Regions from separate parts of the Homo sapiens genome. Here regions 1, 2 and 4 are each linked to region 3. Evidence: fine-mapped QTL for protein levels in blood plasma. A gene starts in region 3. Each other region holds a variant in brackets. All regions are shown on one strand. Distances are from middle to middle.

Region 1 (8,102 bases), 59 kb before region 3:
ACCTTGGGTGGAATGCAGGGCACCTAGTCCTGCTTGGAAGGGGCTGGGAGGTTGGGGAATGTCGAGAATGGAGGGCTAGGGCTCCACACAGTGAATTCAAATAAGGGCTCTTCAGTGAGGGAAGGAAGCCGCAGCCCTCCTTTGGCCCTTTATGCAGGGTCAGCATCTCGGCTCACAAGGCCAAGGGTCACTGGGCAGGAACCAGACTTTCAGAAGGGAAAGGTGCCATAGGCAACGCCAAGGGCATGACTTAAATATCCTATCCTCTGGAAAGTGTTCAAGAGGTCTTGCAGTACACGCCATTTAGGAGACTATAAAATTCCTTTCATTTATGCCATGTGAACAAGTTGAGGCGGTGCATTTCCAAGGTGAATTCATTGAATACAATGAAGTACATTTATTTTTTGAAGGAAGTTTTTGCCGCAGAAATATTGAACTTGGGACTGTGCTGACAAGCTATAACATAATCCCTCTCCTTCCAGATCAGAGCAGGGGTGAGGAAGCAAAAGTCCACAGTTACTGGGCAGGTAATTGGTATAAATGAGGGTGTGGGGCTGGATGCGGTGGCTCACATCTGTAATCCCAGCACTTTGGGAGGCCGAGGCAGGAGGATTGCTTGAGCCCAGGAGGTTGAGACCAGCCTGGGCAACATGGTGAAACCCTGTCTCTACAAAAAATACAAAATTAGCTGGGCATGGTGGTTTGTGCCAGTGATCCCAGCTATTTGGGAGGCTGAGGTGGGAGAATTGCTTGAGCCCAGGAGGCAGAGGTTGCAGTGAGCCGAGATTGCGCCACTGCACTCCAGCCTAGGCAACAGAATGAGATCCTGTCTCACATTAAAAAAAAAAAGAAAAAGAAAAAGAAAAAAAAGAAAAAGGGTAATGTGAGCACACATTGGTCTCATGGTCTACTCACCTGATTAGAGATTAATCCCAGTCTTTCTTTTTCATTACAATAAATGCAACCTGCAGGGGCATTGATCAGTAGAAACAAACACTCAGCCTCATTGTGGGAAGTGATAGGGCGTAGTGTGGGCTGTGGTGACCTGGTGAAGTGGACACCCCTTCTAAAGGCAGAGCTGGTGCCCAGCTCCAGCCAGTTGTTGCTAGGTGAGAATGTGAGCCCCAGCATGGCCAGATCTTCTGATCTGGGTTTTTTTTTAAGTGTTAGAGTCCGCAAGCTAAACAAAACATCCCTGTGCGCCAGATCATTTTGTAGCCTCTCCTGTGGGAGTCAGTGGCAGGAAGGTGTGGTAGGCAGAATAACAGCACCCCAAAGATGTTCTGGTCCTAATCCCCACCTGTGGCTATGTTGTCTTGCATGGCAAAAGGCTCTTCCAGGATGATGAAGGAACTTTAGATGGAGAGATTATCCTGGATCTTCCTGGTGGGCTTTGTAAGTCAAAGAGGGAAGTGGGAGGGCCAGTGTCACAGTGATGCCATGTGAGAAAAGCTTGACCAGCCACTGGAGCCTGGGAATGCAGCCAGCCTCTAGAAGCTTGAAATGGCAAGGAACCGGCTTCTCCCTAGAGCCTTCAGAAGGAGCACAGCTCTGCTGACACCTTGATTTTCATTCAGGGACATCCATTTTGGAATTCTGATCCCCAGGACTATAAGCTAATGTGTTGTTTTTAAGCTACCAAGTAATAGGTTGCAGTGGCAACAGAAAACTAATGCAGGGGGCCACTGTTTGGTATATATTTAAACATTTTTAGAGGATGAGAATATTCTCTAAATTTCTCTTTAAATGTCAAAGTATTGCTGCAGCTAGGAGAACCGCACATGGAAACTTGAGGAAATTTCTCTTATTGCTAGGACTATAGGACAATGGGATTCAAGATGAATTTCCACAATGGGATAACCACGAACCGACCTAGAGAATCAGGAAGTCTCTTATCAAAGCAGATATGTGTCAATGCTGCTCAAACACACACATTCTTTTCTGGTTGGACAGATTGTAAATTATTCCCACCACCTGGGGGACAGGCACACGTTTATCTAGCGGTCAGTAGAAGTCACAACCCAGGCATCCAAACCAGTTAGTATGAGTTATTACTAAGTCAGGTGAAAAGAGCTAGGTGGTTATACATTTGATCTCTTAAATAACACAGGACCACCAAATAAATAATAATAAAAAGGCACATTGTCGTTTTCATCCTGGGGACCCCAGTGAGAGTAGGGACCTCAGGTAGGCTCCTTGGAATTGGAACTGTTGTCCTGAAGAGGGCAAGCCTCTGTTTAACACTCTGAATCCAGGGCTTGCTGCAACCCTATGCTAGGTGACTCAGGCCTCTCTCCTCTCATTACAGGCTGGCTAACCGCACAGCCTAAGTTGAGGAGCACATGAGCTGTCATGACTGTATCCAGATTGGAATTCATCATTTTCAATGTCTTGCCCTTAGAATGAGTCCACTGAGCAATGTGAAGTTGGCGGTGTCCAGGAAAACCTCCTGCTGTTCCTTCTGTATAATTCCTCTTCTTTAGGATTTCTGGTTAGGAACACGGACGGGTGTCTCAGTGCCCTGCTTTATGAAACTCAGCAAAGCGTCTGGAATGGATCAAGTTATTCTGCTGGCTCCATGGGCTCCTGAGTGTTCAGTAAGGGAATGTCTGTGTCCTTGCTGCTTACATCCCCATTGTTGGGATGGGAGAAGGTGTACGGTTCACTCTCAGACTCAGGAGGGGAGCGAGGAGGTGGCTCCTCAGTGGCCAACTTTGCAGTTGGGGCCCTGGAGCATATGGTGGGTGGGGAGGGAGGACAGACCCCCATGGTGCCCTGGAACGGCCGGTAGGTGTCCACCTCTGGCTGCAGGAAGGAGCCGCTGGAATCCTGTAGCAGATGCCCATATACCATGGTGTCCTCGATGACTGCATACACATGGGAGTCATTGTCCTTTCGCCCTTTCTGAAACTTTTTTGGCTGCCTCGGCATCTCAGTATTGATGTTGTCATTGTAGATACCCACAGCGGGGCCCTTGTTTGTCTTCTTTTTCCTATTTGGAAAAATGGAACAAGACAGAAGTCAGAAAGGCAAGAATCTTCGATGGGTACCATTGCTATGGCCCTGCTAGAGCTTGGATTCTTTAGGGTTCTGACCATGTCTCCCCCAAATCCCTCAGATTGCTCAGCATTTGAAACTGAAACTACTGTCCTCAGTGAACATTTAGAAGGGACCTGATTTTGTCTCCAGTTTTCAAAGTGGAAACAGAGATCACAGGTAGTAGAAGAGTGGTTTAGAGAGGGCACCTCTATCACTATCTGTGCTCAATTCGTTTTTGATAGATATGCGGTATCCAATGGTGGAGACATCTGACAATCTCTTTCCCCTCCATTCTACCAGAAATGGGCAGTGTCCCAGACCTTCTCAACCACATCAGGCTCAGTCATGCCTAGGTCAATCCTCCCGCACTCTTAGTACTTTCCCGTAGCTCATGCTTTATCTCTCTTTTGCCTGGGAAAAGCTCTGACCATCTAGATTTTAAATGGCGATACAAGAGACTCAGGAGGCCAGGTTGTATCTTAGTTTTCAGTATGAGCTGGGGAGAGGATAACTCAGCATTAGCAGAGAGACCCAGTGCCTCAGTAGTCACCCCCAACAGAGGAAAGAGCTAAAAAGAAGACAAAATTCAGGCTGCAGTGCCAGAGTTCTTCAATAACACCATTAGCATTTGGTTTATAATGTTCTTTGGTACTTGGACCTGCATGGGCATTAGCGCTTGCTGCCACAGAAAACAAAGCTTTGCTCTCCATCTTTGTGAACCAAACAGCAGGGAATGCTGACTTTTTAGCTGACCAGTGATGCAAATGGAGGACATTAGCTCAATTAGCGTAATGGGCCATATAAGGCACAGGCTGGCAGTTCATAATGGTGGACAGGCTGTCTGTACTTTGCTGAGATAAAAATAAACCTGGTACCTTCAGCTTGTAACGCTGAGCCCCTGGCCAGGAGGATGGGTTCCTAAGGCTCCTGCCTGAAGCCCTGTAATGTTTGTCCCCACTAAAGCTCTTCTCATGCTATCCTGAAACTGACTGTTTATTTGCCTGTCTTTTCAGTCCCCCTGCCCCCATAGAAGAGATTGTCTCACTCATCATTGTCCCCAGTACCTCAATGAATCCTAGTGCCCAGGAGACACTCAGGAAGTACCCGCTTAGTGAACATGTTAGATGGCATTGTCTCTCCTCATTCTCACTGCACAACCTGTCCATCCTCCTACAACAGCTTGGGCACGGACAGGCCTTATGCAAACCTGCCAGCCAGCAGCCTCACACAAGCAAGGCCTGTAGCAAGGCTGGACTGACGATTCTCAGGCTTAAACTGGCGCTGTTTCAAGATGAGGCAAGTGCTGGATCTCGTTCCTTGTCCAATTCCCTCCTGATAAGGAACCTGGGGCCCAGTGTTAATGCCATGCTTCCCCAACTGGGTGGGCTATTCCGTGCACCGCAGATGGGAAAATTCCCTGAGAGAAACAGTAACATGATGTTTCCTTAAAAGCAGTCCTTTTTCCCCCATGTGTTATAGGTACAGCCACTTCTCATGGGGAAAAGACCTCCTGCAAGCCAGTCCTTCCTCATCAGCAGAGACATTTGTAGACAGTCTTGTTGTAGACTAGGAATTTCAGTTCTTTGCTCAGGTCCACAGTTAATTTTTAAAAAAGAATTTTTTGGCTGGGTGTGGTGGCTCACGCCTGTAATCTCAGCACTTTGGGAGGCCGAGGCGGGTGGATCACAAGGTCAAGAGATCGAGACCATCCTGGCCAACATGGTGAAACCCTGTGTCTACTAAAAATACAAAAAAAAATTAGCTGGGCGTGGTGGCGGGTGCCTGTAGTCCCAGCTACTCGGGAGGCTGAGGCAGGGGAATCGCTTGAACCCGGGAGGCGGAGGTTGCGGTGAGCCGAGATCGCGCCACTGCACTCCAGCCTGGCAACAGAGTGAGACTCTGTCTTAAAAAAAAAAAGAATTTTTTCAGATTGGCTTTTTGGAAGGTCAAACCATGTTAAGGAAAATAGCTCTCTTCTCTCTCCCATGACTTTAGTCAGAAATATGAGCAGAATTTATACAGTTTGGCGGCAGCACGGACTCTGTCTAAAAAGGTCAACATTTTCCTTTTATAAAATAGAAGCTCAGCCAGGTACGGTGGCTCATGCCTGTAATCCCAACATTTTGGGAAGCCAAGGTGGGTGGATCACTTGAGGTCAGGCGTTTAAGACCAATCTGGCCAATAAGGTGAAATCCCGTTTCTACAAAAAAATACAAAAAAAATTAGCTGGGCGTGGTGGTGTGTGCCTGTAGTCCCAGTTACTCGGGAGGCTGAGGAAGGAGAATCACTTCAACCCAGGAGGCGGAGGCTGCAGTGAACCGAGATTGCACCACTGGCAACAGAGCAAGACTCTGTCTCAAAAATAAATAAATAAATAAATAAAACAGAAGTTGTCCTCCTGAGGGGATGGAAAGAGAGACTGAGGCAGTTAACTGGGCCTTCCTTCCTCTGGGCCACAGGCCTGGCCTCTGTTACATACCTGGAGCCCAACAGGCAAGGATAAAGCAGTTTGCTTAAGAAACTGCAGGAGAACAAGCTGGGACAACACACATTCGTTCTCCTTAGGGTGACGGAGGGAGTGGTTTCAGAGGCACAGTCTGGCAGAGCCTACGTGAGCATTTTCTTGCCAAGATCACTCCTGCTTGATCAATCTACTGAGCAAACAGCACTCTGCTTGCAGGGGACTTGTGCTGAGGCAGCTGCACCATGAACTACATACAGGTGAAAATGTCACGTGTGTTTTATCCCCCCCTCACCCCCAGGCATGGGATTTTTTTTCTCCTGAAAGCATGACTCACACCTGGCAATATTGTTTAACATTGATCTTTGGGGGAAAAAATGGGAAGCAAGAAAACAAAGTCAATAATGAACAATCCACCCAGTCTGTGTGATCTGAGGAGGCATCAAATCAGATAAAGAGAGTAAGAGATTCCACCTACTTCTTTTTCACACAGCAAATGATGAGCCCGAGGGCAGACAGCAGTAAGACTCCACCTCCCACCGCTGCGATGAGGATGACAGTCAAGTCTGTGAGCAGAGACATAAAGAGACAGATGAAGAGGCAGCTGGGGT[G/T]AGCTCTGCAATGAACTTGAGGCATCTCCAAAAGCAGCTGCCATCTCTCCAAAGGTGGAGCGCCATACATGTGGCTCCTTGTGTGCACATGGGGCTCCTCATATCACAAAGTGTTTATTTCCTTTCCTCTTGGATCTGGGTCAGCCAATATAAGGCAACTGTGCCAGTTCTGGGCCTAACTTTTAAGAGGATGTCAGCTTGCACTTTCTCTCTGAGAGAAAGCCAGCTACTATGTAAGAAGTCTGACTATGCTGAGACCACCATGCTGTGAGAAAGCCCAAGCTAGCCATGTAGAGATTCCACCGGGGAAAAAAATCAACCCAGTGAGAACCAAAGGCCATAGACATATGTCTCCAGTTGAATTCTCCAAGCCATCCTCTCTACTTGTTCAAGGCTTCTGGTTGGGGCCCCAGATATCCTGGAGCACAGATAAGATACACTGCTGTGCCCTGTCTGAATTCCTGATCCATAAATCGTGGGTAAACAAAATAGCTATTGCCAAAGCCACCAAATTTTGGGGTAGTTTGTATATAGCAATGAACAATTGAAACAAACTGAGGGACCTACCAGATCAACTTCAAAGGCTACTCCTGGCCTACAACAGGTGTGTTCCACTGATTGCCACAGCCTGTCTTGGAGAAGAGAAGAGCAGAGGAGGGTAGGAGAAAGCAGGGAGTCAAAAGTCAGAAGTGAGGCAGCTAAAGGGAGGGTTGTTTCCTTTGTGCTGTCCTTTTCCTGCAGCTGCACAAAGGAAAAAGAAAATAAATCAGAGGGGGAACCCTGTACCAAACAGCGAATTAGAATGTCTTGCTTATTCACCAAGAAAACAAAAGGTGAGATCCAAAGGAAAGAGGAATGGAAAGAAATGACAGAAAATGAATCTAAGAGAGGAAGAAAACCCAGGATATAATCTATGAGTGTGGAGAGGTTTTCACTTGTGGCATTTGGCTCCCACCAGTTCTCTTGAGGCTAACCAGTTGTGTGGCTTGGATGGACCTTCAATCACTCTGACCCCCAGAAAGGGAAAGGGAAAAAAGCAGCCTCCACAGTCCCTTCTGATTCTGACACTGTGATGCTCGGTGCCTTCACTGAGTAAAGGGCAGACATGGCCCCACCACAGCCTGCCCTGCCACACCTGCATTCCCTTGCTTGATACCCTTTAGTGGTGCCCATGACTTTGAGGAATAAAGGCAAACTCATCATCCTGGCTCCAAGGCCTCCCACTGAGGGTATTTCATGGATTCCAACGTTTCACTGAGACTAAACAAAAAACCATGTACCTGTCAGACTTTTCAGGTCCCCATATTTTAATTCATGACACCGAATCCCATGATACTTTTATGAGGTGGCTATTATTATCTACTCTCTGTAGATGAGGAAGATCATAGGTGTGAAGAGACTTCCCCTACGTAAAAGAGAGATGAATGGTAAAGGATGCTGGTAGATTGACTAAAAAAAATCTAGGCTGGCCAAAAGAATGCAGTCGAAGGGATGGTGTGTGAGTTCCTAACCTAAAAGTATCAAAAGACCTTATATGCCTCCTCCAGTCTCTTGTGGATCTCTCTGCCTCTGCCATGAAAACAGCCCAGGCTGGAGAACAAGAGATCATGTAGAGTCAAGCCAAGTAATCTCAGTTGTCTCAGATGATCTTGGCTGAGCCTCAGCTTTTTGAAAGCACCAAGCTAAGATCAGCAAAGTCCTCTAGCCAACCTGCAGCTGCCAGTAGGTGCATGAATGACTGAGCCCTGATAAGTCCAGCTCAGACCAGAATTGCCCAGCCAACGTTGGAGCAATAATAGATGGCTGCTACTAAGCCACTATGTTCTGGGATGGTTTGTTACTCAGCACTATTGATGCAATAGCTGACTGATACATGGACAGTCAGGACTCAATCTGTGATTCTGACTTGTCTCCAGGCTTGCTCTCTATCCTCCAGCTGACAATTTTTTGTTCATCACTGTCCCCAAAGACCCTGAAGGCCCTTACCCACA
Region 2 (8,104 bases), 35 kb before region 3:
ATCATGAGCGGCACACACCATTGGCACAGATGGGGCCTCCTGCACAGCCTGAGAAGGGCCAGACTCTGCCCAGAGTCTCCCCTTAGTATTCCTACCAGCTGCGGTCCACTCTCCTGCCTCCAACCTCACCACATGCCATTGGAATTCCTTCCATGAGTGACTTGCTGCATCCTACCAATCATTTCTGGAGCCACAGTCTAATCTCTTTGTTTGAACAAGTGTTGTGTCTTTCTTTCCTTTCTTTCTTTTTTTTTTTGAGATGGAGTCTTGCTGTGTTGCCCAGGCTGGAGTGCAGTGGCACAATATTGGCTCACCACAACCTCCACCTCCCGGGTTCAAGCGATTCTCCTGCCTCAGCCTCCTGAGTAGCTGGGACTACAGGTGCCTGCCACCACGCCCGGCTAATTTTTTGTATTTTTAGTAGAGATGGGGTTTCACCATATTGGCCAGGCTGGTCTCAAACTCCTGACCTTATAATCTTCCCACCTCGGCCTCTGAAAGTGCTGGGATTACAGTCATGAGCCACCGCGCCCGGCCCGTGTTGTGTCTTTTCTAACCCTGCATGCCTGCCTTGACCTAGAACCCTGCAGGAAACATTTAAAGAGCGCTCACTACCTGCCAGGCACTGTGCTACCTCACACTGTCCTCACAACACCCCGATGAGGACAGTCTTACCACTTCCACTTTACAGATGAGCAACTGGGTCACAAAGAGGTGAAGTGACTTGCCCATGGTCAAAGTAAGTGGGGGAACCAGATTCAAATCCATGCAGGCCAACTCCAGGTCATTATCCTTAATGGGGCTATGCTGCCAGCAATACAAGCTGCCTACAAACACTTAGCAAATGAGAGAGAATAAAGAATGAGGGCTGGGAGTGGTGGCTCACACCTGTAATCCCAGCACTTTGGGTGGCCGAGGCGGGTGGATCACTTGAGGCCAGGAGTTCAAGACCAGGCTGGCCAACATAGTGAAACCCAATCTCTACTAAAAATACAAAAAATTAGTTGGGTGTGGTGGCAGGCGCCTGTAATCCCAGCTACTCAAGAAGCTGAGGCAGGAGAATCGCTTGAACCTGGGAGGTGGAGGTTACAGTGAGCTGAGAGCCGAGATCACGCCACTGCACTCCAGCCTGGGTGACAGAGCAAGACTCTGCCTAAAAAAAAAAGAAAAAAAAAGAATGGGTCAGACAAACAGGTAGGGGCACAGGACTGGCTTCCTTGGGCTAGCCCTTGAAATTTAGGGTCCACATAGAGGTTCAGAGGATCAAGATGAAGCTGCCCAGAGATCAGAGTTCTCAGGCAGTCCAGCCCAACCTAAATTTATCCCCAAAGATATTTCTGCCGCCAAGTCCACTCACTCCGCTAGAAACAGTGCAAAGTTAGAGGGCTTGACACTGCTAAACACCTCTCAACGGCAGTTATTGCCCTTTAATCTCAGCACTAAATCCATGTCCTTCTTGATGCTGTTTATAGCACGTTTAACAATTTGATTAGTTTTAGAAATCAACCCAGCTGATGTTACAGTTAGCAGAATTAATCAGAGCTTCTAAGCAGCATTCCACCATGACTGAGGTGATAAACAAATCCCCCTGTCTTCTAAACCCCAAGCCCACTCCATTTCTAAATCCTTTTGTGGCTGTTTTCAACATTCTGATTGTACAGTTGTGACAGTGGAATCATAAAAATGTCTCAATGGATACACACACACACACACTATATATATATGTGCATGTATACATATATATATGCATGTATACATATATATATGCATGTATACATATATATGCATGTATATATATATATGCATGTATACATATATATGCATGTATATATATATATGCATGTATACATATATATGCATGTATATATATATATGCATGTATACATATATATGCATGTATATATATATATGCATGTATACATATATATATATATGCATGTATACATATATATATATATGCATGTATACATATATATATATATATATTTTTTTTTTTTTTGAGATGGAGTCTCACTCTGTCACCCAGGCTGGAGTGCAGTGGCCCAATCTCGGTTCACTGCAACCTCTGCCTTCTGGGTTCAAGCAATTTCCATGTCTCAGCCTCCCAAGTAGTTGGGATTACAGGTGCGCGCCATCATGCCTGGCTAATTTTTGACTTTTTTGTAGGACGGGGTTTTGCCACGTAGGCCAGGCTGGTCTCGAACTCCTGACCTCAAGTGATTTGCCTGCCTTGGTCTCCCAAAGTGCTGGGATTACAGGCATGAGCCACCGTGCCCGGCCCCTTGTATATATATCTATACACACATTATACATACATACATATGGACGTTTCCAGGGCAGCACCAGTTGGGCAATCCCTCTAGTGGATCCCACACTGCCACTTTTCAGATGCTTATCAGCCCTACAAAAAACAGCAGCACGCCATTCCACACTCCCACTTAATTTTTCTGCCTGGCTCTGCCTACTTCCTAGAAGTAAATAATAGTAAAAACAAGAATGAGAATCAGCCCTCTGAACAGCGTCCATCCTTAGCAACACACATCAGAAATGTCCTGGTTGGAGACCACTTGCCACAACTCACTCCTTCACATCATGCATGAGGCCCAGGAAGAGCCAGTCTGAGTTAATTTTGTATCTTTTATCTCAAAATCTGCACGACACCCCTCAGGGCCAAGACTGGGGTGAGGCAAGCCAGGCACCTAGGGAGCAAAGTTTAAGGAGGTGCTCACTCTCAGGGGCTGACCTTGCAGGTACATGACCCTGAGAGTGGGTACCTCCTTATATATTGCACCCTGGGCACTTTGCCTTACCCTAGTCCTGGCCTTAACTCCGCTTTTCTATGTTCATGGCATCTCAGCAACTTTTGTGGAATGATGTCCAACCTAATTCTCATCATCCTAACTGGGCTTCAGTGTGGGCCAGAGCACAGGCTCAGGGTTCTGAGCTTGCTCTGCTCTTAACAAGCTGTGTGATGTCAGGCCAGTTCCATAACCTCTCTGAACCTTCTGGTTTCTCATTAGTAAATAAAGATAATTCCCACCTCCCCTACAGGGTTGCAATAAAGATTAGCTGAGATTGTGTAAGTGGCGTGCCTAACACAAGATGACATGCAGAG[T/C]ATGTGTCCATAGTAGGGGTGCTGAGCCATAAAACTGTAAGTTCCCATCATCATCGCTGATGGTGCGGGTGACATCCTCATTCACATTGCAGGGTCAAGACATAAGATCTAGAAAAATGACCTTTCAATGCCTTCGTTAAAAACAATTTAGCATCTTGAATGCAAGATTTCTTTTTATTGTGCTGAAATGGAACTACATACCGGGTGTTCACCAACAAGCCTGTCTAACTGCCTAGCAACCCACTTCCTGAAACTCTTGCTGGGTCCAGAGTCTAAGTGTTTCAGAAGCCACAGATGAGAAACAGGAAGGGAGCCTCACCCAGGCAGACTACCCAGGAAACAACGAAGGTGCTGGAGGAGGAAGAAAAAGGAAAGTGGGGCTCACTCACTGCTTTCATTTTGTGGATGTTGGACCAAAACTTGGAACTGCAGCCGGAGGATCCCTGGACTTTGGGCATCTTGGTCACAGCCTTGCAGAGAGAGGTTGAAGTTCCCCGCCATGTTCCCAGGCTGCTTGTCCTCCAGCTTGAACACCTCGGGGTTGGTGGTGGAGCCCGGGATGTAGTATTCAACCCGCTCCTCCTTCCTCTCACAGTTGGAGAGGTTGAAGTTGAGGAAGGAGACGCTGGCCCGCAGGTGTGCAGGAACGACAAACTGCCACGTCATGAGCTCATCCTCAGGGAAGCCTTCTGGGTAGTTGGCAGACATCAGGGTTGCTGAGCCTTCACCCTCAAACACAGACTCGATGATGCACAGACCTAGTGGGAGTGGAACCCAAACCAGAAAGAATAGGGAGCCATTAGACCCTGTCCTGGTTGTCTGCAGCCGAGGGGTGGGGGTGTAGGAAAAATGACTGCAGTTCTCAGATCCTGAGCAGTGGGTCTAGATACTGTATATTTGGACTCAAGGCAGAGATTGGGAATGCAGACACATCAGTGGTGTGCGAGTAAATATTAAAAACCGGTCCAGTGGTAGAGGGGAGAGCCCTGACTTATAGCGTCTGCCCACTTCCATAGTGGATGTAAATAATCCCACCACGGTTGATTTCAAGCTACCAACACCAGGTGACTGAATGTGGAGTTGGGCAGTAGCACACCTTTATATTATTCCCTCCATACAGATACGACAACACAAATAACCCTGAAAGCACAGGCAACAGTAAAATAATTAGGAAGTGATGAGTTTTGAGTATTTATTACCTTTGTTTTAAAAATAATTTATTTAATTATGTTAATTTAATTCTATTTTTTTATAACGGATCTGTTTCACATCAGCTCACAAAATGCCTGAACACTTAACAGTCAGCTCTCTGCCAGGTGCAGTGGCTCATGCCTGTAATCCCAGCACTTTGGGAGGCCAAGGCAGGAGGATTACCTCAGGTCAGGAGTTCGAGACCAGCCTGGCCAACATGGTGAAACCCCGTATCTACTAAAAATACAAAAGTTAGCTGGGTGTGGTGGCGCACGACTATAGTCCCAGCTACTTGGGAGGCTGAGGCAGAAGAATCGCTTGAACCTGGAGGTAGAGGTTGCAGTGAGCCAAGACAGTGCCACTGCACTCCAGCCTGGGCCACAGACTGAGACTCTTTCTCAAAACAAACAAAAACAAAAATAAAAACAAAAAACAGCTTTTATGAGCCAGTGTGAGTGAGCTCTGCACATCACTGATACGTTTACAGAAAATGTGAAAGAGATGGAAGACAAAGAAGTTAGAAATGAAGCAATCAAGGTGGGTCTGTAGAACCAATCCCTTGTCATTTTTTTGAAAACAAGTATCACATGCAAAAAGGACAAAGAGAATCACCCCGTTTGTTTAATAGAGAAGAGGGGGTTCACACTAGGAATGCATGACCCATGTCACTTATAAGAGAGCTAGATCTTCCTTTATGGTTTTTATATTGAGTATTAGAGATTTGCTGACATTTGACCATTTCTGACCTAGAACAATGATGATCTTGTGTGTTTTAACCTAATCAGATAGCAGGGAGGGGCTTTCTCACGTTTTATAGATGAGCGGTTTGCAATGCTGAAGCCGGAGACATTTCTGGGGTGGAACCATGGGAGGTGTAAGGCCATTTTCACTCCTTCTTGCATCTTGATCCGGGACACAGTGCCATTGCTGCAGAAGGTTCCGATCCTGACCACGGTGGCATCGATTCGGCCGCTGATGGAGTGAGTGACTCCGTCTGGGCAGCTCTCACCCGGACCGATCTGCCTCAGGCGAGGGATGGAAAACTGCAGCTCTAAACCGATGCTCTTATGAGCTTTGACATCCCAGATGAAAGTTCTGTTGAGGGTAGGCAACAACGATGTCGAGGGCTGAAGCTGAACCTCCCCAAAAGGACATGGGCCTGACATACAGTCTGAAAAACAGTCACAGAAGCAATTTTGATCACAGATGCTCCAAGGCCCCACACCACTCCTCCTCCACCACTCAGCCCCCTGTAGTAGACTCTTTGGGGCTCCCCCAAGGTGGCCTTTACCAGGCAGGGGCACCCAGGCCCCAACTGCTGTGAGTCTTAGTGGCCAATGGCTCACAGATGTACCCTCCTTCGGGGAAGTGCCTCAGCTCGGGGGAGCTGCCTTGAACCAGAAAAGCCTGAGAGGTGTTGCAGCCCCTCATGCCCATCCCAAGGGAGAGGTGCTGTCTACAGCCAATAATGGCCTCCTGCAGGAATTAAAAAGTCTGACCTCCTTGCTTCAAGTGATGTAACCTGGGTATGCCATTCATACTCCAGAGCTCCCCATGGGGTCAGGCTGAAGCTACTCTTCAGCTAAAACCGCATCTGCATTCAGCTACGTGCCCTGCTCTATCCTGCTTTCCTCACTTCTGAGAGCACTTTCTTGATCACTGACTTAAACAAAAAATCCTGTCTCAGGCTCTGCTTCCAGGTCACCAGACTTGAGACATCTCTTAACTACTGTGATTTCCAGATTAAGTTCCTGGGGTCCAGTGGGTGAAGCCAGAAGGAAGGCATTTGTAGCAGAGTCTGTGCTTTGGGATCTCCTACTTCTCCTGTACTAAGAGAGTCACGATTTCACAATTTGTAGAGCACAGTGCCAAGATCCATCCTTTAAAACTGGTTTCCCCATCAACACATTCATCAACATAGCAAATATACTCTGAACGTGCAACTCCCCTGGACAGCTGGAATCTGGCGGCGCCATTTCTCTTCTTGCACTGCCTTAATGCTGATATTTTATAACCACTGCAGTTGAATTTCTTTTTTTAAGGCTAACAGCTAATAACATCCTTTGATATATTTGTTTCCTAAGCCTTTTAAAACAAAGCAAGAAATATTATCAAAGAGAAAACAAGAGGAAAGTGAGGGGACGAAACAGAAAGTAGGCAATGTAACATTAAGGTTTTGTTGTTTTGAGCAGGGGGCATCTGAAAGGTGTGATAGACTCTGGCCTCCATAATAATAATTTGTGAATCTTTACTGCTGTTCTATTGGGGTATTTGAAAGTATTGTCCACTCAAAATAGAATTATGGAGAATTTCAGATCAGTCTTGGATCTCTGAGGTCATCCAAGCCAGACCTCTAATTTTTGCAAAGCAGCTGTGGATCCAGGTGACTTGGGCTGGCACTTGCAGCAAGTACACGGCAATTCCAGATCCCAGGACGAAAGCTCAGGCTGTGTTTGGTCAGCCCTTTCTTGCCAATGCGCTATGCTGTCTAACCAATAACACAGGGTTAGATAACATGGTGACTAACGTGACTAAAATTAGACTTTGCGTGTTAGTAAAGGTAGTTCCTATTTTAGGAGCTCATGGAAACTTCAATGTTTATATCAAGCCACCTCTTTCTTTCAAAAGCAGACCTCAAGTGATTTTCCACGCACACCTCCAGTGTGCCCAGGGCAACATCAGTTGGCTCTGGCTAGGTTCTGTACTCTTGTGGAAACATTTAACTCTAGTAAGGCAGTGACTCTTAGCTCTGGTTCTACCTACAACTCACCTGCAGGCCGTTTAAAAACTACACATGCCTGGACCATCCCAGGGATTCTGATTTAATTCTATAGTAAAATCTGGAGTCAAAAAGCCCCATCTCCCAGCCTCAGCTCTGTCAGCAGCCATGTGACACTGTGAGAGTCAGGTTATGAAAGCAATTTTTCATTTGATGCTAAGAGCTTTGTTTTTTAGGATGAACACACAGGTAAGAGTAGTCAAAATGATTGGCATGCCTCGGAATCTTCTCCTGTACTCTGTCCAGTGAAAACATTTTAAATAACTAAAATGATTCCTGTCCAGAGGATGGAGAAGTATTATTTCTGAAGTGATTCATAAACTCATTTTCCCCAGCAGATTTCTAATTTCATTAACTCTCTTTTTTTTTTTTTTCTTTTTGGAGATGCAGTCTTGCTCTGTCACCCAAGCTGGAATGCAGTGGCACCATCTTGGCTCACTGCAACCTGTCTCCCAGGTTCAGGTGATCCTTCTGCCTCAGCCTCCCAAGTAGCTGGGACTATAGGTGTGTGCTGCCATGCCTGGGTAATTTCTTTTGTATTTTTAGTAGGGGTTTCACTATGTTGACCAGGCTGGTCTTGAACTCCTGACCTCAGGTGATCCATCTGCCTCAGCCTCCCAGAGTGCTGGGATTACAGGCATGAGCCACCATGCTCAGCCAACTTTCATTAGTTCTCATGGAACTATTCAAGAAGAGATGAGAATGGAGACATCAAATTTTATCTGATGCTGATTTCAGAATGATTGTTCAGAAAAGGCAATGAAGGGCAGGTGGACCACTGGACCTGATTCAGTGTCTAGATTTATTATTTTAGAAATTGATATTTTCATATCATTTTCAAAAGTTGTGAGCATGGGTTTTTACTACATAGTAAGCCATGTGGGCATCCTAGGATTGAGAGACTGAATGCATTCAAAGGCTTGACTTGTGAAATGTGTCACTTGTTACATTTTTCCTTTTTCAAAGTGGAAGTCACTTTATTGGTTTAACTGATTATAAAAGTAATGTACAGTCGTTTT
Region 3 (8,104 bases):
GTTTTCTTTTGGCAAAAAAGCACTGGTGAGCTATTAGTACCATCCAGCTGGGGTGGTGCTTCTAAGACTCTTGAGTCTGCCCAGCAACACTGTCCAGATTCTATTTGCCAAATTGGAGGGAGGAAAATGCTTCTTCCATAGATGCTGGTGAAACAACAGTGAGGAGAGCCTGGGAGAATGTGAGAAACAAGCACTAACACACTGATGGCTGGAAAGCACACCAGGACAGGCTCTCCACAGGTGACATGGAAAGACGCATCCAAAGCCCTAAGAACCTCTCTACTCTTCATCCCAGCAATTCTGCTTCCAGAACATGGAAATACGCAACTAAAGCCCTAAGAGCCTCTCTACTCTTCATCCCAGCAACTCTGCTTCCAGAACACGGAAATACGCGTGCAAAGACCTAAGAACCTCTCTACTCTTCATCCCAGCAACTCTGCTTCCAGAACGTGGAAATGCGCGTCCAAAGCCCTAAGAGCCTCTCTACTCTTCATCCCAGCAACTCTGCTTCCAGAACTGTAGCTGGACAAAATAGTTAAGAATGTTCAGAACATGGGCGCGGTGGCTCACGCCTGTAATCCCAGCACTTCAGGAGGCCGAGGCGGGCAGATCACCTGAGGTCAGGAGTTTGAGACGAGCCTGGCTAATATGGTGAAACCCCGTTTCTACTAAAAATACAAAAAATTAGCTGGGTGTGGTGGTGCACACCTGTAATCCCAGCTACTCAGGAGGCTGAGGTAGGAGAATAGCTTGAACCTGGGAGACGGAGGTTGCAGTGAGCCGAGATCGCGCCATTGCACTCCAGCTTGGGCAATAAGAGTGAAACTCTGTCTCAAAAATTTAAAAAAAGAGTGTGCAGAACAACACAGCTGAAGAACACATTCTTAGATACATCAAAATGGGATAATCCAGTTGATACCATTTTATAACCTTGGCAACATGAGGATAATGGTTCATCCTTTCATGTCATTTTCTAGTCTGTGCTATGTAATTTCAAGTGCCTTTTCACTGAATAGACCTATTAAAATTGATACAAGCAGCTGGCTATTGTTGGACGTGTTCTATTTTTAATAAGAAAAACTGGAAGCAACTTAAATGTCCAACAACTGGGGACTGGTTAAAGCCATACAATGGGATGATCCCATTTTTGGTTTGTGCACATGAGCGTGCATACATACACATTAAGAAGACTGCATCAAAGTGAATAAGGCAGTTTGCTTATAGATAATTTTTTTCCATTTTGGTTATATTTATTGCCACTTTTTCTACAATAACTATATGCTACTTAAAACATCTTAATTATTAACTTCCTTCCCCCATATTGATAGCCAGGGAGAACACCCAGAAGAGTGTGTGTGTGCACATGCAAGGCGTGCAACCATCATAGATGAAATGGCAGCATCTGAGGTGAGCCCTAGGGCTAACAGGTCTGACTCCAAGTCATGCAAATCTGTGGGGATGTGGGGGAGGAGATGGGGGAGACTCATCAGCGCTACCAGTTACACATTCCAGACAACAGCCAGTAGCTCCTCATTTGAATCGGAAACAGAATGAACACCCACACTCACCCAGGGAGTGTGAATATATCATTTGATCTGTCTGCTCACATTTTTGGCAAGAGACAATGGTGGCAAGATTGGGGTCACTGACCCAGACTCTGGTATCTGAGTGGTTCTTAGAAAGCAACCAAATGGAGGTTTTCAAAAGGCTATGATCCCAATGTAACCAGTGTTTCACTCTTGGAAATGGGGGAGTTGGTGGGGATACCAAAGTCACACAAACACACGACACCAAGACACAAACTTTCCTTTACTTTTCATCTCTGCAGTGACACCAAATTCATTTTTACTCTGCTGAGTCTTTCTTTGTTAAGAGACTTCATGGATTTATAAAACAAATCCACTGTGCCAGGGCTCTGGCTTTCTGTATCCTTTCAGGACAGTCTCCAGGAATTTCTCAAAGGCCTTTGCCACTTAGATCCTCAAGACTACAGGCAACTACTCCAACCACAAAAGCTCTCAGTTCAGCCTGATGTACCCTCAAAGGGCCAGTTCCTGAGACCATAGGGAGGAACTTAAGAAAGCGAAAGGGAAAGTTCCTAGGTTTCTACGTATTTATGTATTGAACCATGAGACAGGGCTCAGCCAGTCAAGGACTTCCTGGAAGGGACTCCATTGGAGTTACTGGACCAAAATGGCAGCCTTCCCAGATCACAGGGAGAAATGAGACCAGGAACAGAGGCTCTCATTATTAGCAATGCCTTGATTAACACCCTGTTCTGACTGGAAGAGTTCCCCACTGTTGTCACAGAAAGCCAAAAACATCTCAGATAATTCCCAGAGTTTCAATACTGTTCCAAGACTGGTAGGCACGCATTTTTCTCAGCACACATATACACATATTTTCACTTCCTTTTTATTCTTAAACTAATTCTTTTTCTTCAAAGGGAATCTTGGAAATTCAGTCCTAAGAAATTATAGTAAATATTCATCAGCCAGGCACAGTGGCTCACATCTGTAATCCCAGCACTTTGGGAGGCCCAGGTGGGAGGATCACTTGAGCTCAGGAGCTCGAGACCAGCCTGGGCAACACAGTGAAACCCTGTCTCTACTTTAATATATATAATTTATATATATATTTATAAATCCATGCCATGGTTTAAATGAAGTTTTAAATTTTCTATCTACTATGCAGCAATATGTCACCTGATGTTGGAGAATGAACCAGGAAGTATTCCTGGAGCTTATATTGATATTTTAGAAGCTCCTGTCTTGTATTTGTAAAGACGGCAGTCACCGGGACGCCCAAATTCAACCTCACTTGCGTCCTTTTATTCCTTTATCTAATTTACACCTGCCAAACACAAATCCACCCTAGATGCAGCAAGGGGAATCAAACCCACATGGCTTCCTGGAGAGCTCTATTTAAAAAACACAAAACCTGTACTAATCTCGCGAAACCTGTACTAGCCTCACATCAAGTTCTTACATGAAGAAACCAGGTTATTTACTACGTTCTAATACATCCAGGGCCCACAGGGCATTTCCTGGCTGGCACAGGTCACTGGGACGTGTTGGTCCCTTCCCCCAACCGAAACAACTCGAAATTCACACATATCCCCGGAACAACAGCCTCCTGCCCTCAAAGTCCACTGCCAAAAAGTGCGAGGGGCGCGGGAATGTCCAGTCTCTGCGGTGGCGCAGATGCCTGGCGGCTTTCTCTGGGACCCCCTAAAAGAAATCCGGGCGCTTTCATTTTTGCACCAACGCTCTTCAACTTTAGGAGAGGGGGAATGCAGCGTGCGGACGGGAAAAAGGGGATCTAGTGGGAAATGCGGACGTGAAAGCACTTTTTTTGCACCTTCTCTCTGGACCAGGCGAGGAGGTAGAGGGCGAGCCTGGAGAGGAAAGATCTCTTCCCACACCCTGCCTGGGTGCTTTCAAGAATCCCGGCAAAGACCCTGGGGCGCACGGCGCGCCACCTTGGACATGTCGCCTGGGATCGGCTACCGGGAGCTCCTTTTCCCGCCTTCTCGGCCAGCACCGGGCTCATCCTCCCGGACCGGGAGGCTCCCCGATCGGGGACACTCTCACGTGCCGAGGGCAAGGTTGACTCCAGGAGGGCAAGGCCCACGCGCCCGACGCGGCGCGCGCAGGAACCGAACAGTCCGGGGGTCCCGGAGCCACCCGCGCATTTTGACTACGCCGTCCCCGCCCTCTCTCCGCACCCTCCGCACCCTCCGCACCCTGCGTCCCTCGGCCGCATCTCCGCCGGGCGTCCGCTGGCTGGCTAGCTCACCACTCCACGCCATCCGCCTCCAAAGCCCGGCACTCACCTGCCCCGCGCGGCAGGCGCGCCGCACCCAGCAGCAGAACCCCTAGCAGTGCGATAGAGACCCCGCAGTTCAGGCCGGCCATGACTCCGGGACGCCTCGGCCTCGGTGGGGAAAACGACGGTGGGGAGCGGCGGCCCCAGGCGCCCAAGCCCGGCGCAGCTGCGCTCCGCCCTGGCTCACTCACCTGCGCGCGGGCGGACCGGCCCGAGCCCCGCCCTGCGCAGCAGGATCGCGAGCTGACCCGGTGCGTCCCTCCTCTCTCTCCTCCTCCTCTTCCTGCCTCAGCGACCGCCTCTCCCTCCCAGGGTGCAGGGCTCCCGGCACCGGGTTGCTGGGTCCCTACTACTCCCCATTGCGGCGTTGGAGCGGACTTGTCCCCACCTTTCCGGGCTTAGTCTTCCTTCCCAAGTCTGAGAATGATGAGGTCTTTTTCTCCAGAGTCGCGAAGGTCGCCCATAGAGGAAGCCAGTCTACCTTCCCTTTTCTGTCGAGGAGACAAAGGCCATTATGCGCCTCGTTTTGGAGAAGAATCCTATTTGTGGGCCACCCAAGCCCTGGATCCTCTGCTACTTGACTTGGGCCAGAGGTCTGTTGGACTTTAAAGCCGGTGGTGGTACAGCTAGTATTTGCAGGACGGTGAGCCTGCAGCCTACTCCACACACATCACCTGCAGTATTTCCAGACACGCAACGTGTCCAAGGTCCCCAGGGTAGCTAGTAAATTAGAGGCAGATGCACCACTTCGTTGAATTGTGAGTAGAGTAGTATGCATCCCTTCACTGAGCTGTGGATGGAGTAGTATGTGCCCTTCTCGAGTTGTATTATAAATGGAGTAGTGTGTGCAGTGTGAGCGTGAAGCATTCAGGTCAAACGTTGGGCTGGAAAATGAATGAAAAATGAATGGCGCTGGACTCCTTTTCCAAATCCTCCCAGCCGCAGGTGTGCCACCTGCCTGTCTTCAGAGGCCCTGTGGGTTCTCCTTCCACCCTGCCGGCCATACACCAAGTCCAGGCCACAGGCAGAGATTGCGGATGGTTCAGGAGTTCTTAGCTAGCAGACCTGGGTTCTGCCAGAATGACTCCCTGGGACTACTTGTGTTCATGGATAGCCAGAAGCTGGGCCAGAGTCACCCGGAGCAACCTGGGAGGCTTGGGACAGGAACCAAAGCATGTGCGACAGCATCAGTTTACAGTCCAGTCCCAACTTCTGCTTAATTCTTGCGGGCACTGAGCCTCTCCAGGCTGCCCCAATCCTCCTTGTGGACAGGGGTGGGAAATCATCTCCTAGGAGCGTCACCCCTTCCTTCTCGATGTCCTTAATCATGAGAATAGAGCTAGCTCTGCCCTCTGGGAGCCCACAGTCCATCGAGGGAGGCAGAACTTGGAACATGACCCTGCCCACACCCCCACCTCTGGGAGGGCCTGTATCGTGAGCTAAACGGGACCTTAGATGTAATCTTCTAGTCCACTTCTGTCCTTGTGCAGAAAAATGGGAAAACTGAGAACTAGAGGGAAGGGAGAGGATGAGAAACGAAGAGAGGCTCTTGGTTCTCCCCACTGAATCGAGGACAAATTCATCAAGAGAAAGAAATCTTGACAAAAATCTAAACAATCTTTAAAAATATTTATGCTGACCAGGAGGGTGAAAGGAGATTTGTCTTTTCTCCTGATTCTAAGCAGGCATATATATCCCAGCATCTTTTCCTAACATCCATGACACCATTGTTTCCCACATACAGTAATACCCACAACAGTACTAGAATGGCAGTGTATTGAATGCAAAATATCAGAAATATTGCTTGACAAGTTAAGCCTAAGGAACAAGTTATTTCCTTACTATTTCGTCTCTCCAAAGTTTGCTTAACTGTCTTTCTTGGGATAGTTGACACCAGCTTTCTGAAAATGGAATGAGAGTCACTAATTCCCAAATATGAAGCATTGGTGGTGGTTCCAGAAAGTAGCAGCAACGAGAAAGAAGAAAATAGGGAGGCACTTCAGCATCCTTTGCGTGACAACCCAACTACATAGTTGAAGTAAAGATGTCCTGACATACTGTCCTGGTCCTCCAAGTGGAGTGTGAACAAAGCATTGCCAAGAATGGACATGTTTTGTCTTTACAAACATGGCTGAATGGAAGGAGTAAATTTTAAAAGGTTATTTCTGAACTGGAAAGCAACGTAGGTAACTATAATCTAGTGCTAGAGAGAAATGAGAGATTGAAAGGTAAATTTTCGGCTGGGTGCAGTAGCTCATGCCTGTAATCCCAGCACTTTGGGAGGACAAGGTGGGTGGATAACTTGAGGTCAGGAGTTGGAGACCAGCCTGGCCAACATGGCAAAACCTCATCTCTACTAAAAACACAAAAATTAGCCGGCTGTGGTGGCGGGCGCCTGTAGTCCCAGCTACCCAGGAGGCTGAGACAGGAGAATTGCTTGAACCTGGGAGGTGGAGGTTGCAGTGAGCTAAGATTGCACCATTCCACTCCAGCCTGGGCGACAGAGTAAAGTTCTCTCTCTAAAAAAAGAAAAAAAAAAAAAAGGAAGGTGAGTCTTAAAACAGACTGTCCCATCTAATTTTGACCTCTTCTGAAACCCTGCAAAGGCTGTAAAACAGGGATTAAAAAAAATTACATAAGCCCACAAAGGTGGGAAGAACAGAGAGAAGACAACAGCAAAATCACCCTGGAAGCTAGACAGCAGCTGGACTAGTGGTAGCTGCCTTAGGAGCCTGGAGATGGCAGAACCCTAAGCCAGTAGTGGGGAAAACTCAGAAATAACACGATTAACACAGAAATCCTCAAAAAAGATCCTCAGGAAATGGCAGCACAAGGTATTCTGCAACTGGAGGGTGAAAGAGGAGTTAAACAAGAAAGGCTAGAAGAAAGCTGTTTGAGAAGTACTGTGGTTAGATCCCAGAACCCATCCATCATTACCCTTGCCTGGGCAACAGTCCCTCGTCCAGCTTCCAGTGTTGTTCTTGAGAAATCCAAAACCATTCTCATTTTTATTATTTTCTTTGAGACCCTTTTCTTGCCTCTAAAGCTGTAGAATCTTCTTTTTGTTCATTGGTTTCTGAAATTTCACCATAATGTGCCTTGATGTGAGTCTGCCTATATTATCGATCTTTAGATCTTGACAAGTTAGAGGGTTGGTAAGCTTAACAACTTTAGTGTTGTCTTCTGGAGAGATTAAAACCTAGGGATGTGGGCTGAGGGATGCCAGGCATAGCTGAAAGCATAGGAAACATTGTAAAAGTAGGTAAATAAAGGGAAGATATGCATTCTGAATGCTGAGATCCCCAGCTGTCTGGCCCCAACCTGCATCCAAGGATGAGACAAAAAGGCTTTGTTATCCATATTGGGGATGGAAAAAGTCTTCTTCTGGGGAGTCTGACCAGCACAGGAGGAAAGACCCAAACATATGGACATTAGACCCTCATAAACAGGCCAACCAGCTTCCTACCATGAGGCTTTCAATTAAGCCCCACCAACTTAGCTTTTTAATATCTCATTTTAATTTTAATTTTTATTTATTTATTTTTTTTGAGATGGAGTCTCGCTCTGTCACCCAGGCTGGAGTGCAATGGCGCGATCTCGGCTCACTGCAACCTCTGCCTCCCGGGTTCAAGCGATTCTCCTGCCTCAGCCTCCCAAGTAGCTGGGACTACAGTTGCACACCACCACGCCTGGCTAAGTTTTGTATTTTTAGTAGAGATGAGGTTTCACCATGTTGGCCAGGCTGGTCTCGAACTCCTGACCTCATGTGATCCACCCACCTCAACCTCCCATAGTGCTGGGATTACAGGCGTGAGCCACTGTGCCTGGCCAATATCTCACTTTTAAACATGAGCAATCAGGATTTCAGGATATCTGAGGAGAGCTTCTAACATATTAGAGTCAAAGCCAACCAAGTAACCAAACCGAGAAAAAAGAAAGAAAGAAAGAAAGAAAGAAAGAAAGAAAGAAGCAACCTGAAAGACTATACAAAGAGAAGAAAATAAAAGGAAGCAAAACAAAAAAATTACTAACTCTCTTAGAGTGATGTAGGCAACTATAATTTGGTGTCAGACAACATTCTCTCTGTGAAGCAGGAACAGCATGTTATAAAAAACAAAACAAGGCCGGGTGTGGTGGCTCACACCTGTAATCCCAGCACTTTGGGAGGCTGAGGCGGGTGGATCACCTAAGGTTGGGAGTTTGAGACCGACCTGACCAACATGGAGAAACCCTGTCTCTACTAAAAATACAAAAAATTAGCCAGGCGTGGTGGTGT
Region 4 (8,104 bases), 49 kb before region 3:
CTGCATTCTGAATTGTAAAAGCAGAGTCATAAAAATGTCTGCCTAAGGATTTTTATGTCACTACCTTAAAAATCCGGGACTGGGGAATATCTGGCTATTTCTCATTTACGTCCTGCCTGCTTCCAAAAAAGACTCAAACCTGATAATGTTTTTGCTGCCTACCAACCATCGCCTCTCACTGTCAGAAACATTTTTTATTTCTAATCTCAGGAATTTTCCATGCTAGGTTAATGGTAAAGTCAGGATTAGGACTCACTATCTTTCAAATTTCTTGTGCAAGGACCAGCATATTGAGCTATCCCTTCTTTCCAAACTGGCAACTTAATTAAGGTGATCACAAAACTAAAATCAAATAAACGCTTAAACTAAAGGGGCATGGAGATAGGGGAGACCCCCCTTACCTTTGAAATAAGGTATAAAGGACACCGTCAGACCCTGCCTGGAGGCCTCTTGTTGGAAGCTGGGGGCAAAGGTGCGAAGGGTCACCGAGATGTTCTGCTTCACCTGGATCTGCTTGATAGAGCCTCCCGGGCAGAAGGAGCCGAAGTACAGGTCCTGGCTGGGTATGGCACTGGCCACGAGGTAGCTGAAGCTGGTGTTGCAGGGCTTCTCGTGTGTATGCTGCTGCAGCTTCTGGGCTGGCACCAGCACCAGGCTGAGCCTGTCCTTGGGCACCAGCAGCTTCCAGGAGAAGTCATGCAGCTCCACAGGCAGGTGGAGGATGTCACTGGGCACCTGGAGTGAGTAGGATTTCCTTTGGCAGTACCGGTGGTCTGTGCAGCCTGGAAGAAGTGGGGCATGCTAGCCATGCACAAAGGAGACCAGAAGTGCACCCTCCCCAGCTCTCCCGTCAGCCTGAGGTTGGGTGTCTGCATGCTGCCCTGTGTTTCCCTTCGGTCTCTCTTCTCCCACCCTGCCCTCTGCTTCTGGCTCCTCTGTGTTCCTTTTCTAGCGGTCCCTCTGCTCTCTTAGTAAACATTCTTACTGTTTACTAAGCTGGCAAACAAACTTCTGGGTAGTACTCAGGGTTGAAATTTCCTCTCCTTTTTTGCTTAAGTTTTTCTTCTGTGTATCTGTGTCTTAGATGCTAAGTGTCATGGGGCAGGGCACAGGTTTCACTCCACCCAGACGTGTTGCTCAGGAGGCAGTTCTGGGCAGTGGTTGGAGCTGTGAGTGGCGTTGGGGAGATGTTAGTTCGTCTTCTGGCTCTGCCACTTCCTAATAGGGTGTTCTTGGGCAGGCTACTTTGCCTCTTGTGGCCTTAGTTCCTGCATTTGAACTAAGAGCACACATCAGAAGTCATGGTAGCCCAGCAAGGAGGTGGCTGTTGGTTTACTGGCCTTCAGTCATCAAACATTTTTTTTTTTTGAGACCGAGTCTCACTCTATTGCCCAGGCTGGAGTGAAGTGGTGCGATCTCGGCTCACTGCAACCTCCACCTCCCGGGTTCAGGCGACTCTCCTGCCTCAGCCTCCCGAGTAGCTAGGATTACAGGCACCCAACACCATGCCCGGCTAATTTTTTGTATTTTTAGTAGAGATGGGGTTTCGCCATGTTGGGCAGACATGTTGGCAGACCAGCCTGCCCAACCTCAAGTTATCTGCCTGATAACCTGACCTCAAGTTATCTGCCTGCCTCGGCCTCCCAAAGTGCTGGGATTACAGGCATGAGCCACTGTGCCTGGCCAATCAAACATTTTTCAAGTGACTAGTGCATGTCCAGCACCGGTAGGGGCTAACTGGATGAAAAATAGAACGAGTCAAAGTTCTTGACCTCAGGAATCACAGTCTTGTGTGAGAGAAGACAAGAGGGCAGTGAGTGTGGAAGTGGGGGTGTGGGGTGTGGGGGGATGGGGATGGGAGAGGCTGGGGAAGTCTGAGCAAGAGAGGAGAGGATCTCACAAGAGGAAGATTGGAAGGCTGGGCAGAGAGACATAAGCCTGAACATGGGGCAGTATGACACAGTTCTGAGGGCTGCAGGCTCTACCTGAGGCTGGTCCAAAGGGACGTGTTGACACCCACTCTGCTTGCCTCCTGGTCACCCTTGCTCACCTGCACTGTGGGTGGGGTTTTTTTTTTTTTTTTGAGTCTTACTCTGTTGCCCAGGCTAGAGTGCGTGGTGCAATCTCGGCTCACTGCAACCTCCGCCTCCCAGGTTCAGGCCATTCTCCTGCTTCAGCCTTCTGAGCAGCTGAGATTATAGGCGCCTGCCACCATGCCCAGCTAATTTTTGTATTTTTAGTAAAGATGGGGTTTTACCACGTTGGCCAGGCTGGTCTTGAACTCCTGACCTCAAGTGATCCACCAGCCTTGGCCTCCCAAAGTGCTGGGATTACAGGCGTGAGCCATCGTGCCCGGCCAGATGGGCCTTTTTGATATGATTTACAACCTACCCAGGGAACCCCACTAAGGCAAGGCGGGGAGAGAAGAGCTATCCATGGCCAGGGACAAATGCACTGATTCAGGGGCGTACTTATGGTTTTTTCCACATTCATCCACAGACGTGTCAGATCATCACAAAGGAAGGAGATTTTGTGTTTGGAGCCAGATGTCAGGGTGAGGTTGCTACTGCAGGTCCGAGATTCTAGACACACGAAACAGCCAGGGACAAACTTGCGGCTCTGTTTGACGGGCCGTGGCTCGATGGTGAGTGACATGGCTCGCTCATTACTCAAGTCAACCACGTAGATTTTATCTGAAACCACAAACAGAAAACAGGCA[T/G]GAAGCATGGATCAGCAGCAACACGGGAAATGGCAAAAATTGGTAGAAAACCTCTCCTGAGGAAGAAAATGGCATATCAGACCATGGATGGATAATGTTGGGAAAACGTATTATTAAGGCAACATTACAATAACTATAAAAGACAGTTAAAAAGAAAAATAATGGACTTCACTACAATAAAAACAAAGAGAAAATCATTAAAAATGTGGCATAAACACAAATTATAAAAGTGAAAAAAAGATTAAAATATCTGTCTGATGATAGGTGCTACAAATAAGGTTAAAGGACAAGGGACACGTCGGGAGAAAGTGTTTGCAATATAGAATGATTGAGCAGCTCACAGGAAAGGAGATATAAATGACTAAATATTTAAAATATAGAAAGTTCTTAATGTCACTTGTAATCAGAAAATGCAAGTTAAAACAAAGTGTTACTGTATCCCACTCCTCAGATGGGGGGAAATGTAGATGTCTGGCAATACTGAAAGCTGGAGAGGCTACAGGAAACAGGCCCTTTGGCACACGGCCAGTGGGAGCCTGGAACACCCTGTTACAGAAACATGGGAATTAGTAAAAGAATGAACTCTTGTCTCTTCTGGGAACCAAACAGTGTGACATGGCCATGAGTGCCCACGTTTAACTGCAGCACTGTGATTGTGGGAAACTAGAGACCACCTTATACTGGAATAGATAAACTATGGGGACATTCACCAATGGAATATTACGGAGCTGTTAAAAAGAATGAGGGAGGCTGGGCACAGTGGCTCACGCTTGTAATCCTAGCACTTTGGGAGGCCGAGGCGGGCAGATCACCTGAGGTCAGGAGTTCAAGACCAGCCTGGGTAACATGTTGAAACCCCGTGTCTACTAAAAATACAAAAATTAGCTGGGTGTGGTGGTACATGCCTGTAATCCCAGCTACTTGGGAGGCTGAGACAGGAGAATCGCTTGAACCCGGGAGGCGGAGGTTGTTGAGAGCTGGGATTGTACCACTGCACCCTAGCCTAGTGACAGAGCAAGACTCCGTCTCAAAAAAAAAAAAAAAAAAAAAAAAGAGGGAGATTTGAAAACCTAAATATAAATATTGAGCAGAACAGCAAGTTGTAGATAATATGTAGAGTATGATACAATGCAGATGGTAAAATCTCTCCGTGAAACAAAATAGCTATTTATATATACAGACTTATGTATGCAGATGAAGAGAAAAAAGATCTGGAGAGAAATATGACAAATCCGTGACTGTGGTTACCCCAGAGGAGGGGCCTGGGAGTAAAGACAGACTGAGTGGTCAAGGAGGATTTTAGCTTTGCCTATAATATTTAAATTTCTAACAAGAACATAGTTACCTATTTCTTGCATCATTTGGAAAACTGCTGGATTATTGGTCATTTAGGTGATTTCTATAATTTTGCCATTAGAAATAAATGAACAGTGCCAGGCATGGTGGCTCACACCTGTAATCCCAGCACTTTCAGAGGCTGAGGCGGGTGGATCACTTGAGGTCAGGAGTTGCAGACCAGTCTGGCCAACATGGTGAAACCTCATCAATACTAAAATACAAAAATTAGCTGGGCATGGTGGTGGGCGCCTGTAATCCCAGCTACTCGGGAAGCTGAGGCACGAGAATCGGTTGAACCCAGGAGGTGGAGGTTGCAGTGAGCCGAGATCCCGCTATTTCACTCCAGCCTAGGCAATAGAGCAAGACTCTGTCTCCAAAAAAAAAAGAAAGAAAGAAAGAAAAGAAAAGAAAAAAAGAATAGGGATACCTTTTCAACTCTTTAGAATAGATTACCAGATTGGTTTATAAAAGACTCATTTCACTTTTTAATGTTATCCCTAGAAAGCTCTACACCACAGATGCCTGGGGATCAACTTGTACTGAGTTGCTTTTGAATTTCATTCATTCTTTTGTTTAAAAAAAAAAAAAAAAAAGCCCATCAGATTAGGAAGGCGCCTGTGCAAAGTGGTGCTAACTTTGCAATTCAAGGGTGTTGACAATATCACCCATCAGCGCCGGCGAATGAGTTCAATTCTAACTGGGAAAGCTCTATTTCCAAAAAGGCCTGCTAAACTTCCTTCTTCCTCATAACAGGAACCATATAATTGATGGACTCTCTCCTCTTGAACTGGCTGCAGGGAAGCTCGGTGTCAAATTAGTAGCACAATTAGGAAAATGTTTTATGGCTGTCATATCTGTTAATTGCCTGCTGTAGTTCTTGCTGTCTATTTTCCACGTAAATTTTGACATCACATCCAATAGTGCTTTAATTAGAGAGATGCCATGTCTAGAGCTGAAGTATATATTCTAATGCTGCTAACTTAAATATAATTTGATTTGGAAAATAGTCAGCTTTTCAATCACCTGGCCCCACATCCAGCTCATTTCTTACTGTCTTTCAAAACTCACCTTCATTGTTACCTGCAGGACACCTCCCCACCCCAAAGCCGTGTTAGAAGCCCCTCTGCTTCTGCAGTCCCTGCTTACCTTTACCAAGGCCCCGCCACACACTGCAGTGGTCTCCCCACCCGCTCTTCCCTCATTTCCATCTTACCAAAGCCATGCATGCACATACTTTAAAGCAGAGATTCTCAGCCTTTATTATTATTATTATTATTATTTTGGGGGACAAAGTCCCACCCTGTCACCCAGGCTGGACTGCGGTGGCGTGATCATAGCTCACTGCAGCCTCAACCTCCCAGGTTCAAGCGATTCTCCTGCTTTAGCCTCCTGAGTATCTGTGAAACAAAACAGCTATTTATATGTACAGATTTATGTATGCAGATGAAGAGAAAAAAGATATGGAGAGAAATATAACAAATCCGTGACTGTGGTTACCCCAGGGGAGGAGCCTGGGATAACCGCAGTAAAACATGCTCTGTTCCATTGCTCAATAACACACTCCGTTCCATTGCTGCCTATGGATCTTTCAGTTTCAGGCACTGTCTATTGGCTTCCCACTCAGGAAGATGTGGATTTCTCCTCCTTCACCCCACACCCCCTCCACACCCCACACCCCCACAACACAGCACAGACTAGCGAACACTCACACCACACACACTTCCCATTCCCATTCTCCCATCTTCCTGATAGTTAGCGTCATATTTTCAGCTAGATCTTCATTCTATGTTTGTGTAATCGTGACTATGTAATAATATTAACAGTGTTTAGGTAGCTACACTATATTGCATGCTATAATGATTTTTCCTTTCTGCATAAAATTTTGTGTTCCCTGTAGTGAATTATTATCATTTTAATCATTTCCTTAGTTTCTATGTACTTATCAATAATTTGATACCCAAACTCTCTTCCACTTGTATAAATCTCCTTTCAATAAATTTGAAAACATTAGGTACTTCCTCAACTTCTTAAGAAATCTCTCCAGAGCCTTTTCAATGCTCTAATCTAAAGGGGCTGCTCTTGATGCCTGGTGCTCAGGTGTGATCCTGGATCTCCTTCACTGTTATCATGGGATTCCCTTTGCTTCTCTCTTGGACTAGATCCTGGGCTTCCTGGATCCATCTTTTCTTTTCTTTTTTTTTTTTTTAATTTTTACTTTCTTTTTAGGTGGATTACAGCCTTCAGGTGCTTCTTGAGAAAGTATATATGGGGGTAAATTTTTTTAGATCTTGTAGGTCTAAAAATGTCTTTATTCCACCTTCACACTTAATTGTTTGGCTTGGTATAAAATTCTAGGTTGGAAATAATATTCCTTCAGAACTTTGAAGATCTTACTCCATTGTTTTATAATACCCAGTGTTGCTGATAAAGTTTGTTGCCATTTGGTTTCTTCTTCCTCCGTATAAAACTTTTTTACCTCTTCTCTAGAAGCTTGTAGGGTCTCTGTGTCCCTGATATTCTGAAATGTTACAATACTGTGCCTTGGTGTGGGTCTATTTATATCCATTGTGTGTGGTGGCCCCTTCCAGTTGGCAACTCATATCCATCAGTCCTGGCAAATGTTCCTGAAATATTTTGTGATGATTCCCTTCCCTCTATTTTTTCTCTGTAAAACTCCATCTATCCGGATATTGGGCCTCCTTGACTGGTCCTTGAGTTTTATATTTTCTCTTTCTTTCTATCGCGCTGGCTTTTTCTTCACTCCACTTTCTGGGAGATATCCTCAACTTTATCTTTCAGCCCTTTTGACTCTTTCATTTCTGCTAACATATTTTTAATCTCCAAGAGTTCCTTTGAACTCTTGGAGATTAAAAACGAGCTTTCTCCTGAAAGCCCTTTTTAAAAATTACAACCGGTTCCTTTTACATAAACGCAGCATCTCTTCTTATTAACTTGAGAGTCTTGATAGCTGATTTTTAGTTTTTTCTCCCTCTATAGTCTCTGTTTCCTGCAAGTGGCTTTTCTTCTATTCATTTGTTTTAGTCTTTGTATTTTTCATTAGGCTTCACCAGATGTCTGGGGATCTATATACTGCTCTTATTTAAAGTGAGGCACTAATGCTATTTGGAATAGCTCTGCTTGTTGACTGGGCTTCTCAGTAGGGTGATATGGCCAGATTGCTTCCTGGGGAGCCCATAACATCAATATCTTTGGGTCTTTTCTCTTAGATTGGTCAGATGCCCCCAGAGAAGAAGTCATTCTCTACCGAAGGGAAGAAACATACCCATGGGCACCAGGGAAGGAAGGATGGAGCCTCATGCTCAGTACTTCAGTTTTACTCAATCCCCCGTGTTCAGCTTAGTACCTCCACCTTCAGTGTGACTGGGATCTTTGGTTCAGGGACTCTCATCTCAGGAAAAGAAACTTCTCTCTTCTGTCAGCTCAGGGAAGAACAGTTGTTTGGCTGCTTGTTGGCAAGGAGACCATCTGGGGCTCTAGTGGCTCTTCCCACCTTAGCCCCACATTTGCCCCCAGTTCTGGAGGAGACTTGCTGCCAATTCTTGAGGCTTTGCAGGATAAAGCAGATTTCTTCTTGGTTTTTCCCACTGTTGGCTTAGGATTCTGCCCTTTCACATCTGCTGGATCAGTTACCACCTTTCTACTCTATGAAATGTTATACGATATTTTTTCCTTTCTATTTCTCTTTCTTCCTTGAATTTTATGTCTTTAAAAATACAAAAAAATTGTACCTTAAAAATGTTTTAAAATGCTTTAAAAATGTTCTAAGAAAACCCATTATAGTAGGGTGTATGAAGGGAGTAAAGCCATCTTTAACAGGAAGTCATGATTTTCCTTTTACTTGTTCATCTTTCCCACCAGAATGTGAACTTCATGGCTCCACATAACTGGTATATGGTAGAGGATCAATTACAATGTTAGGCTGTTCATCCTCATGATATCCTTGAGGGAGTGTGTAAATCAGCTGAGGCTAAATTATGCTGCAGCAACAAATGATCCCCAAATCTGAATGGTTAGTATAACAAGGGT

Direction of the effects. Positions count from the first base shown, and alleles are read on the strand shown. Strength reflects both the effect of a copy and how common the allele is.
In carriers of allele T in region 1, the plasma level of the protein whose gene starts at base 4,008 in region 3 tends to be lower than with G alone (moderate association).
As copies of T replace C in region 2, the plasma level of the protein whose gene starts at base 4,008 in region 3 goes up (moderate association).
As copies of T replace G in region 4, the plasma level of the protein whose gene starts at base 4,008 in region 3 goes down (weak association).

The links. PIP is the chance, under the fine-mapping model, that this variant and not a neighbour inherited with it causes the effect. Protein levels are from antibody-based Olink assays in UK Biobank. Linkage for the fine-mapping came from a reference panel and not from the study's own genotypes, which makes the PIPs less certain.
Region 1: its variant is fine-mapped to the plasma level of the CDCP1 protein (UK Biobank, PIP above 0.99).
Region 2: its variant is fine-mapped to the plasma level of the CDCP1 protein (UK Biobank, PIP above 0.99).
Region 4: its variant is fine-mapped to the plasma level of the CDCP1 protein (UK Biobank, PIP above 0.99).

What each region holds. Positions count from the first base shown.
Region 1 is chr3:45,083,076-45,091,177 of GRCh38, forward strand. CDCP1 (CUB domain containing protein 1) reads right to left here. Exons shown (of 9, transcript NM_022842.5): 7 at 8,098-8,102; 8 at 5,979-6,066; 9 at 1-2,992. The coding sequence ends at 2,563. Among named protein-coding and RNA genes, the nearest start is that of CDCP1, 59 kb to the right of the region's middle. The variant G/T (reference allele first, on the strand shown) is at 6,112.
Region 2 is chr3:45,106,969-45,115,072 of GRCh38, forward strand. CDCP1 (CUB domain containing protein 1) reads right to left here. Exons shown (of 9, transcript NM_022842.5): 3 at 5,115-5,477; 4 at 3,505-3,873. Among named protein-coding and RNA genes, the nearest start is that of CDCP1, 35 kb to the right of the region's middle. The variant T/C (reference allele first, on the strand shown) is at 3,116.
Region 3 is chr3:45,142,371-45,150,474 of GRCh38, forward strand. CDCP1 (CUB domain containing protein 1) reads right to left here and starts at 4,008. Exons shown (of 9, transcript NM_022842.5): 1 at 3,836-4,008. The coding sequence starts at 3,917.
Region 4 is chr3:45,092,876-45,100,979 of GRCh38, forward strand. CDCP1 (CUB domain containing protein 1) reads right to left here. Exons shown (of 9, transcript NM_022842.5): 5 at 2,472-2,693; 6 at 402-782. Among named protein-coding and RNA genes, the nearest start is that of CDCP1, 49 kb to the right of the region's middle. The variant T/G (reference allele first, on the strand shown) is at 2,720.